Homo sapiens: one gene and its partners. The protein of the gene in region 2 purifies or fractionates together with the protein of the main gene of each other region. This does not show direct contact. Each region holds a gene or a part of one and is shown on either strand. Other genes may lie near its edges.

Region 1 (3,500 bases), on a different chromosome or scaffold from region 2:
CTCTAGGACGGGCACGGTGGCTCATGCCTGTAATCCCAGCACTTTGGGAGGTCGAGGCGGGTGGATCACAAGGTCAGGAGTTCAAGACCAGCCTGACCAACATGGTGAAACCCGTCTCTATAAAAATACAAAAATTAGCTGGGCGCATTGGCAGGCACCTGTAATCCCAGCTACTTGGGAGGCTGAGACAGGAGAATTGCTTGAACTTGGGGGGCAGAAATTGCAGTGAGCCAAGATCGTGCTACTGTACTCCAGCCTGGGCAACAGAGTAAGACTCCATCTCAAATAAAAGAAAAAAAAAGAATATCATCTCCAAATATAAGCGATTATCCTTTATCAAATTCATTCTGATAAGAAAACATTCTGTTACTCCAAAATAAATAACAATGACACTACTTTTCAAGTCATTTTGATTCTCCATTTCTCCGAATGCCAATATTAGGTGATACGAAGGCCACAGATGGGATACGAGTATGGGCCCCAAGCAAGCTGGACAGCCCAGAGGTATTGTAATGGCCCTCTTCCCCCAGCAGTAACCATCCAAACCCATTACATAGGCAAGGCCAATTCAGACTACCAATCCCTGGAAGTAACTGAGCACATGTCATTAGGTGAATACATTTTCAAAATTACTGTTGTGACAGTAACGTGTGGTAGGCGATTTCTACATAAATATCATCAAGACCCTCAGGATACACAAAAGCATTCTTAACCTAGCAGCATGTCACATTCCTGAACCTTAAAAAAAAAAAGATGATGTCAAGAATAGACATGAAATGGGAATTTATTTAAAATCAAAGTGCTTAGTTATATTTTCCCACAATTCAGAAACTTTCCATTATTTCTCCAGGACTCAGCTTGGGGCAGTTTTCCTGTGATCTTTGCAGTTAATAAATGTGCTGGCCTCAGTGACCACAAATAACCAGCAGAACCAAGAGAAACATATCTGAGTGCTTTCACTATAGCACAGGCACACAGGGAGTTTGTTTCAAGTGAAATAACCTCTGTGTGCTGCCTGGGGATGGGACCGGGGGTACCTGGACCAGACTCTCAGTGAGAAATGGCCCAGAGCTGAGAGATGGCAGCTTGTGGAACCAGGGCTGCCAGGGTTACCTAGAGCTTAGGTAGGGCTTGGAAGCAGTGAGAGACTTGGGGTCCTGCTCACCTGGGACCCTGGCTGTGGACTCCCTGCCTGGCTCTGCCCCCTGCCTCTACTCAGGGGAATGGGTGGGGGTGGGCATGAGCAACAGCAGCCCTCTCACTCCCACCCCACAGGACATCTTGCTGGGCTGATGGGAGCCAGAATGCTTGCAAAAGTTGGGGAAAGTCCCCTCCCCGTTTACCATCCAGATCTCTTCCAGGTTTAGGAGGCTAGGAGACAAATACAAAGCTACAGCCATCATCTGGTCTGCTCACACTGACGAGCTGCCTCTGTACTCCAGTGCTTGTCCCGTCCTGCCCTGGAATGGGAATGGGACTAGCACTGCCCATATCCTGACTATATCCTGTCCTGGGCATGGCTGGGCACAGCTTTCATGGGATCATTCCAGCCAATGAATGCACAGCCAGGGAGTACTTGAAAGGTACACCTGTTAACTGATCAATGTTGAAAGGGTGGCAGAGACAGCTCAGTAACCACATATGGGTTTCTGAATATTTAATTACTTAATTTTTAAAGATTAATTTAGAACTTAAAAAACATGTACCATTAAACACACAGCACCTCTTAGGAACTTGACGGAATGTAAAACAGATGTCTAAAGAACTGGGGACCAACACTTGAATGGATGTTGACACAAAAACTTGTATTTAGTTAAAAGTGACTCTCTTTTGATTTTTTTTGAAACGGAGTTTCACTCTTGTTGCCCAGGCTGGAGTGCAATGGCGCGATCTTGGCTCACCACAACCTCCGCCTCCCGGGTTCAAGCGATTCTCCTGCCTCAGCCTCCCGAGTAGCTGGGATTACAGGTGCCTGCCACCACGCCTGGCTAATTTTTGTATTTTTAGTAGAGACAGGGTTTCGCTATGTTGGCCAGGCTGGTCTCGAACTCCCAACCTCAGGTGATCCACCCGCCTCGGCCTCCCAAAGTGCTGGGATTACAGGTGTGAGCCACCGCGCCTGGCCTGATCTTTTAAGAGTTCAATTCTTGGACTTAATGTTGTGTCTGAAAAGGAGGATAAAATATATGAAGAATACACTGAATATAACACAATGGAATTATCTTATTTGCCAGTGTAGAAAGCAAATATCTTCACGTTTACCCTCAAAAAATCCTGAAAGACACCTGGAACCTCAGCAGCTGAGAGAGAGGGGCAGATTCCCACCTCCCAGGCTACCCTCGCTCCAGCAATGGATACTGGGTGGAGTAATGTGGAGAGTTTTCCTTCAGTATAGAAAACACCACTTGTTCTTCTCTCTCAGTCTCTCTTGTTTTTGTTTGGTTTGAGCTCCTATAGTTTAATGTGGTCAAATTAAGTAAGATTTTACTATGAGGAACTATGAAAATCTGTTAGAAGAACATGCATTGGACTTTGTACAGCTAGTTTTTGTTTTTTTTGTTTTTCCCTCCAAGTGAAACCTACAGCTAGGTCATTTAAAAGAATATTTAATTTAACTCTTGTATCGCTATAGATCTTTGTGTGCATATGAAATTAATCCGTATCAGAGACCTGTAACTTAAGAGAATCAGCTCCTACCATGCAAAGGTGTTTGAAGAAAGATACATGTTAGATGATGGCAAGGTGTAGAATTGTGTGGATGGTATTCTACCATTTGCCTTACACACACGCACGCATGCCCGCATACACACGCTCTCTTATACATGGAGAATCTCTCTGGAAGGATACACAAGTAACTGGTGCAACAGTAACTTGACTCTGGGAGAGGAACTGGGTGTCGGAGAAAGGAGGGAGGCTTTCCAGTTTCTGTCCTCTAATAACTTTTGAATTCTGTACTACATACATATATTAATCAAACTTAAATGCTTGTAACTGGGAAGAAAATAATAGAATAGTACTCAATTATTATTATTATTATTTTGAGATGGAGTTTTGCTCTTGTTGCCCAGGCTGGAGTGCAATGGCACAACCTCAGATCACTGCAATCCCCACCTCCTGGGTTCAAGCGATTCTCCTGCCTCAGCCTCCCGAGTAGCTGGGATTACAGGCATCTCCACCACCACGCCCAGTTAAAGTTTTGTATTTTAGTAGAGCGGTTTCATCATGTTGGCCAGGCTGGTCTCCAACTCCTGACCTGAGGTGATCCTCCCGCCTCGGCCTCCCAAAGTGCTGGGACTACAGGCATGAGCCACCGTGCTTGGCTGAGAATTATCCAAATACCTTAATGAGGCCTTTATGATATTTATGATACAGCCTTGACTGGCCTGATATAACTGGATGCAAACAATTTTAACAAAAAAGAAAATTATAAGCCCAGGAGCTGCTTGCATACCTCGTTTTGACTCTGTACCCCATGGCAACTATAAATACATGATTCCTGT
Region 2 (3,500 bases):
GGAGTTTCCAGGCTGGCGGTAGAAACAGGTAAACCAGGTATTTATTTTACATCCTGATGAGTGCACAGTGTCATGGAAGCATCTAAACCAGCCTGGGGGATAAGGATTTAAATGAAAGAAGCAACACTGTCCCTCAATCCCTCCCTTCGTTCTTCACGCCCACCCCATCACATCTCCTTTCCCTTCTTTACACAGAACACTCCTTTGGCCCCTACCCACCTTGAGCATCTTAATTACTTCCTGTTAACCTCCCTGTCGCTCTCTAAGGCATGGCCAGCCCAGGCCGTGTGCTCTTTCTGGAGCATCCCTTTCTACCTCTATGCCTTGGCTCAGGCCATCCCCTATACCTGGCTGTTCTCCCTCCATGTCTTTACCCATTGATCCCTTATGTTTCAAAGTCCTGCTCACTCATTCATTCATTCATTCATTCATTCAACAAGTATCTCCAGAGAGTGCACTATGTTCCTTGCACGTCGATGGGTACCAGGGATATGGAGGGAAATCAGTTACAGCCTATGTCCTCAAGCTGCTCACAGCCATGGGGGGACCGATGGTGACAATAAGGACATGTATGGAAGATGTGAGTCTGGGGGTGTTGTAAGGCCAGAGAAGGATCCTAATCCAGCCTTAGGGGTGGGGGGTATTCAGGGAAGACTTCCTGGAAGAGAATACCTCTGAGTCCTGAAGAATGAGGTGAAAAGAGAGAGAGAGGTGTATATAAATACATGAGAACACATATAATCTTAGGCATCGATGTGACCTATGATTATATGTGTTCACATGTACTTATATGCTAATGTAATAACTAGTGTTTATTGGATGCTACTAGGAGCAGCACTGGACTAGCACATTTGACATATTAGCCTTATAGGGGTGAGGCCTCACAACCTTATAGGGGAGAGGACTATTATCATTCCCATTTCACAGATGAGGAAGCTGAGGCACAGAGAAATTCAGAACTTGCTCCTGGTCATACAGTGACTAAGTGGTAGAGCTCGGGTTCAAACTCATTGCAGCCTCCAAGCCCATGTTTTGACCACTGTTCCCTGCCTTCTGAGGCTGGCCAGGTCATTCTGCCACTTGCTCTTGTCCAATGCATTTATCAGGGACATCTTTCCAGATGGTAAAATTCAGGTTTCCTTCTATTTAATGGCTGCAGAGGATGTCACTGGATTTTAAGCAGGAAAGTGAAATGGTCAGATATGTCCCTCGGAAAGGGACCTCTGGGGATAGAAGGGGGCTGCCTGGAGGTAGAGAAGCCTGTGTTGGGTGTGCAGAAGGAGGAGGAGGCCTACGTTGAGGCTGGGATGGGGTGATGCACAGTGGGGAGGAGCTCGGGAAACACGCGGTGCAGCAGGATGCAGCAGTGACCACCTCTAAGGTGATCAGAAGGGCAAGAAGGCAGTGGGGGAGGCTGTCTCAGGATCTCCTTCCCAACTAGACCTCTTCCAGGTCTGCACATTTTAATTCCCCCTAAGCATGCTCCAGCTAGCACTTCCAATTCAGAGCAAGTGAGCAGCAGCTTCAGCTCCACTAAGATGTGCAGATGTGGTGGTGCCTGTGGAATTCTTAATTCTTTGAATAATCTTTGCCTAGGAGGGTCATGTCTATTTTACAAAAAACAAAACAAAACAAAACAAAACCCAAGAATAACCACAAATTACCCAAGACACTGCTTTAACCCTGCCTCCTAGTAACAGCTCATTCAGCCTCACCACACATAGCCACCTGTCCAGTCCTAAGCATGGACTCCACACCAGTCTCAATCTGTCTGTTTCTCTCCTTGGCCACTGCCAGTCCAAGGGGCTGTCCTCTCCCATCTGGATGACAGCAATAGCCTTGTTACTGGTCTCCCCAGTTACACTCTAGCATAAGTTACTCCATGTCTCTAGCCTCAGTTGTCTCATCTATAAAATGGGCACATGAATATGCATCTCGTAGAGCTGTTGAGGACTGGGTGACATCACAAATGGAAAGCCCTGGAGTGCTTTCTCAACAGACAGTACTTCTTTTCATCAGTCATCAGGACAGGAGGGTCAGAAAGGTCAGGGGCTATTTCTCCCATACCCTGCTGGTCCAGATAATAGCAGGTGCTAGGGACCTCTGGATCGCCCCAACCCCCTTGCCCGCACTCCCCCACCAAGGAGAGGAAAATGCTTCTTGCCCATTCATCATATATCCTGCCACTCGATGGGAGCATCATCACCTTATAACCCAGGGCTCTCCCCAGCTCCTCAATGGCTCCTCCCCTGGTTCCTTGCATGGTGACTGTATCTATGAGTGAATCTGAGAGATGAAATAGGTAAGTAAGTATAACTCAGTCCCTTCTTTTGGGAGCCAGCGTGCCTGCAGGGAGCATGCGTCCTTTCCACTCTCTCCCAGGAAGGACAGGGAGGGGCCACCTCCTGCAGAGCCCAGCACTGCCTGTACCTGAGTGGGCAACTCAGCCCATCCTGGCCTTCAGCATTTGCGAGCCCACACGCTCCACTGTCACTCTGATTAGTAATAACCATGACATTTTGTTCTCCAGCTGCCTTGTCTTGCCTTTTGTCTTCATTCTCGATTGGTACAGAGCTCAGGCTGGGCAGAGGAGTGCTATTTATCGGCCCTTCCCACCGCCCCCTACAGGAGAGACCAGTGGGAGAAAACTCCATCTTGAGTTCCTGGCTTGTTAATGGAGGTTTTCAAGGCTTGGTGAAACCCGCTGCTGTGAGAATCAATCAATAAACAACTGAAAAATATTTATTGAGCTCCTGATACAACAGGGAAAATAACTTATCCTTGCCCAGTGTTTCTTACCACTTTCAAGATGCCTGGAAAGCCGTTCCATTCAAAGGTTTGTGAGCACCATGAAGTGCCAGGCGCTCTGTTATGAATGCAGACCCTACCAGAGGCCCATGTTAGGCTCATCAGGGTGGCCCCGCCACTCAAGTAGTCAGACACCAAGGACAGAGGAAAGAAAACCAGGCTTCCCATATGAGCCTGGGATCAACAATCACGTCCACAGACTCTCCAGACCACAGGTGTGGGCTGGTGGTGGAATTGTGCCTCACCTGGGCCGAGGGCAAGGGGCAGCAGGATGTACTTATTTAATGATGATTAGTGATTCTCTCCAGGAACAAAGAAAAGCTAGCAAGTAAATAAAAGGAACACTCTTGAAAGAGCAAACCAAGTGAAAATTGCCTGGAAAAGTTTGAAAGAAATGAAAAAAGAAGAGAAAGCAGATGCCTCTGTTAGCTATTAAAATACAACCTATACAAACAATCATCAAACCAGCATGGCACAGATCTCCGGTCCTCCTCCTGTGCTCTGTGCCCCTGAACCACATCAAAGGCTCTCTTGCTGTCCACCCACTTCTGATTGGGTTTGGCCACAGGCAGGGCAGGAGGAGAATGACATTTAGTGTTTATTCCCTTCTCTTGGGTTTGGCCACAGGCAGGGCAGGAGGAGAATGACATTGAGTGTTTATTCCCTTCTCTTGCTCCTCCAAACTTGGAGGC
Region 3 (3,500 bases), on a different chromosome or scaffold from region 2:
CACAAAATGTAAAGTCACAAGCAAAAGACAGACACATTTGACTACATCAAAATAAAAGCTTCTGTATACTCAAAGCAAAACTAAACAAAGCAAACAACAGCAAAAACAACAAAGGGACAAGGCACTCCAAAAACAAAGTTTAAAGATAAATGACAAACTAGGAAAAAAATTATTAATATCCTCATATGGAAAGAGCTCCTATAAAACAATAAGACAAAGCAAACTACTCCCAAAAAACACAAATAAATGACATAAACAGACAATTCAGACATAAGGAAATACAAATTAAAATATAGAAAAGAAAGTTCACCCTCACTAATAATCATGAAAATGCAAATTAAGACTGGATACCATTTTTTTCTCATGAGTGCTTGGCAGAAATGGAAGTCTACTGGCATGGGTGTGGGGAAGCAGGTGTTCATGCTTTAATAGTAATGTAGCCAGCACAGTGATAAAGGATACTCACTGTAGCAAATAACTGGAAAAAACCTTAACGTCCACCAATAGGGAAATGGTATAATAGAAAACTATGAAGCTGTTAAAACAGTGGGATAGATCTATATGCATGATATGGAAATAACTCGAAGAAACAGTGATACATTTTAAAAAGCAAACTGCCAAACAATATGCCTAGTATAATCTCGCATTTAAAAAACAGAAAAAAGGCTGGGTACAGTGGCTCATGCCTATAATCCCAGCACTTCAGAAGGCCGAGGCAGAAGGATTGCTTGAGCCCAGGAGTTGCAGGCCAGCCTGGGCAACAAAGTAAGACCTTGTCTCTACAAAAAATAAAAAAATTTGCCTGGCAGGGTCACATACACCTGTAGTTCCAGCTACATGGAAGGCTGAGGCAGGAGGATTGCTTGAGCCCAGGAGGTCAAGGCTGCACCGAGCCATGTTCATGCCATTGCACTACAGCCTGGGTGACAGAGCAAGACTTTGTCTCAAAAAAGAAAAAAAGAAAAAACAGAAAAAAATCCAAAACGCTGTTTATGTGTATATTTATGTACCTCAATAGATATGATAATAGTTATACCAAATTTTTTTAACAGTGGCTACATCTAGGAAGCGAACTGCGATGGTGTAGGTGATCACAAGAGACTATAGAATGACTTATACCATTAAATTTTTTTTTCTGTTTGATTATTTTACCAATTTTTTTCTGTTTGATTATTTTACTAAAAGACACATTTGCATCACTTGTTTAATAAAAAATAACGATGCAGCACTTAAGATAGTATCTAGCATATAGCAGTTGCTCAAAAATGCTAATTTCAACTTAAAAATAAATTAAGAAAATATTTTCAAAGAGTTAAAAAAATAAAGGATGATGTAGCCATAATGGTTCTATGGCCAAGGTTCTAAATGCTACATTATATAAGTGATAGAATTCTTCCCCAGGGAACAGAAAAAAGGGGCACGTTTAGGGGAAAAGGGAATTTACCAAACAACCAAAGAAAGATATCCAGGGTCTGTGTGTATTCACTGACCCAGAAACAAGCAGTAAATAAGTGTTTCTAGAAGTGCTTTACTAAAGGCACACTTAGCATATTAGAATGGTCAACTTACCTGTCGTCTTCACTACAGAGGTGGTGGAAACTCCATTGAGCTCACTAGAACTCCTTTTCACAGGCCTTGGCTTGTATTCTCGTCTGGGGACACTGGATGCAGCTGATATTCTGTAACACACATCGTAAGATGAGCCAGACATCTGATGTTGAAAGCTTTCCAAACACACATCCTCTCTGCCTTGTTGAGCACAGGAACTTAGGTTACAGCCAGTGGTCATGAAAGGGACGATTTTTACACACTGACTCTTGAGTAGCCCGAAGTGATGGAGGTGATATCACAAATGCAGTTTTTCAACTCCCTATTTGAGCTTGTGAGTGAAATTCATCTTGAAGAAGACTAATTGGGCCAGCCATGGTGGCTCATGCCTGTAATCCCAGCACTTTGGGAGGCCAAGGTGCTCACCTGAGGTCAGGAGTTCGAGATCAGCCTGGCCAACATGGTGAAACCCCATCTCTACGAAAAATACAAAAATTAGCCAGGCATGGTGGTGGGCGCCTGTAATCCCAGCTACTCGGGAGGCTTAGGCAGGAGAATCTCTTGAAACTGGAAGGTGGAGGCTGCAGTGAGCAGAGGTTACGGTGAGCCAAGATGGCGCCACTGCACTCCAGCCTGGGCAACAGAGCACGACTCCATCTCAAAACAAAACAAAACAAAACAAAAGACTAATTTTCTTCATCAAGTCTCTGAGGCATCCAGCAAGTGCCTGGGACGCGGTCGGCACCCAGTGATGGGAGCTGCCTTCTCCCTCACTCTACTCTTATAGATTATGATAGAATTATGAAAATACACTCCTGTCAGTAACAGGTAAACTATCTGCCTGCAGAAGTGGATGCTTCAGGGACTGAACACATCTTTGTCTTCCCTAGGTAACTACGTCATTGATTTAAGTAAAAATCCCTCCAAATTTATGCATTACCATAATCCTGTGTAAAACAATTTTCTGTTATCAAACCTAATTTAAAATATTTTAATAAACAGGGTTGCCATGCAGACTATATATAATATTACTAATTTTCAGAAAAGTATAGACTACATCTATGATTAAATTCACAAGGAATGCAGAAACCTTTCTTTGATTGTTCAGAAGATATTTTTGACTCTTTCAATACCTGTCAATATTATGAACACAGCCTGAAATTTGTCAATATTTTGACTCTTTCAATACTAGTCAATATTATGAACATATCCTGAAATTCGTACTGGTGAAGTGAAGGCACTACCTTTTTTTTTTTTTTTTTTTTTTACAGATATTTACATATTTTCCATACAGCATCTCACTTTTTTCCATAGCTCTGGATGTTTTCCATCCCTTTGTGAATGGGGAGTTAAACTCTCATCAAATCAGCAATGAAGCCAGGGTAGTTCTGTAGGGGTTGATGTCCCAGGTGGGAGAGCAACTTGGTTAGTTGCCCTAAACACGGGTCACAAAAAAAAGGGATTTAATGAAAAGAAAAAGGAGAAAAGCTGCCAGGTCCCTTTTCCCAGTTCTATCCTACTGGCCAAAGCCAGTACTTATTATCTCAGTCCCATCCCACATCCAACCATGAAAGCCAGTGAAAGAAAATTCAAAACAGAATGAGGCAGGGGAAGGGGGAGATGGAGAGATGGAGAGACAGACAGATGGATTTCAATAGATGTTACCTCCGCAGCCCTTGGCTTGTAAGAAACGTGGAGGTGCTTACCGCATCTGTAGCTTGCTCTGCAGCTCCTGCAGAATCTCTGTGGACTGTCTGTGATAGTCTAATGCTGCCTCTATGAACACAGCCAACTGGCTGACTTGTTCTACCTGCAGCAGAAGTGCAAAATTATTCCATGGAGGCCCGAGCCTGTGTAATGTCCAGAGAGAGAGGAGACCAGCAGCAAAGACCTAGCTTTGCAGGGAAGACCAGTGTCTGCCTTGGTCCATTTCATTTAATTTCATGTAGGAG

The links. The genes of interacting proteins can lie anywhere in the genome.
Region 1: the proteins of HRH1 (region 2) and HEATR3 purify together in Homo sapiens (co-immunoprecipitation; one large-scale study listed by IntAct). This does not show direct contact.
Region 3: the proteins of HRH1 (region 2) and SH3GL3 purify together in Homo sapiens (pull-down; one study listed by IntAct). This does not show direct contact.

The regions. Positions count from the first base shown.
Region 1 is NC_000016.10:50,086,470-50,089,969, reverse strand, and holds part of HEATR3 (HEAT repeat-containing protein 3), read right to left. Parts: intron 1-3,500. UniProt on the Homo sapiens protein: Plays a role in ribosome biogenesis and in nuclear import of the 60S ribosomal protein L5/large ribosomal subunit protein uL18 (RPL5). Required for proper erythrocyte maturation.
Region 2 is NC_000003.12:11,160,993-11,164,492, reverse strand, and holds part of HRH1 (histamine H1 receptor), read right to left. Parts: exon of another isoform or gene 2,725-3,500; intron 1-2,724. UniProt on the Homo sapiens protein: G-protein-coupled receptor for histamine, a biogenic amine that functions as an immune modulator and a neurotransmitter.
Region 3 is NC_000015.10:83,586,841-83,590,340, reverse strand, and holds part of SH3GL3 (endophilin-A3), read right to left. Parts: exon of another isoform or gene 3,366-3,500; intron 3,359-3,365; coding exon 3,255-3,358; intron 2,984-3,254; exon of another isoform or gene 2,828-2,983; intron 1,680-2,827; coding exon 1,570-1,679; intron 1-1,569. UniProt on the Homo sapiens protein: Implicated in endocytosis. May recruit other proteins to membranes with high curvature.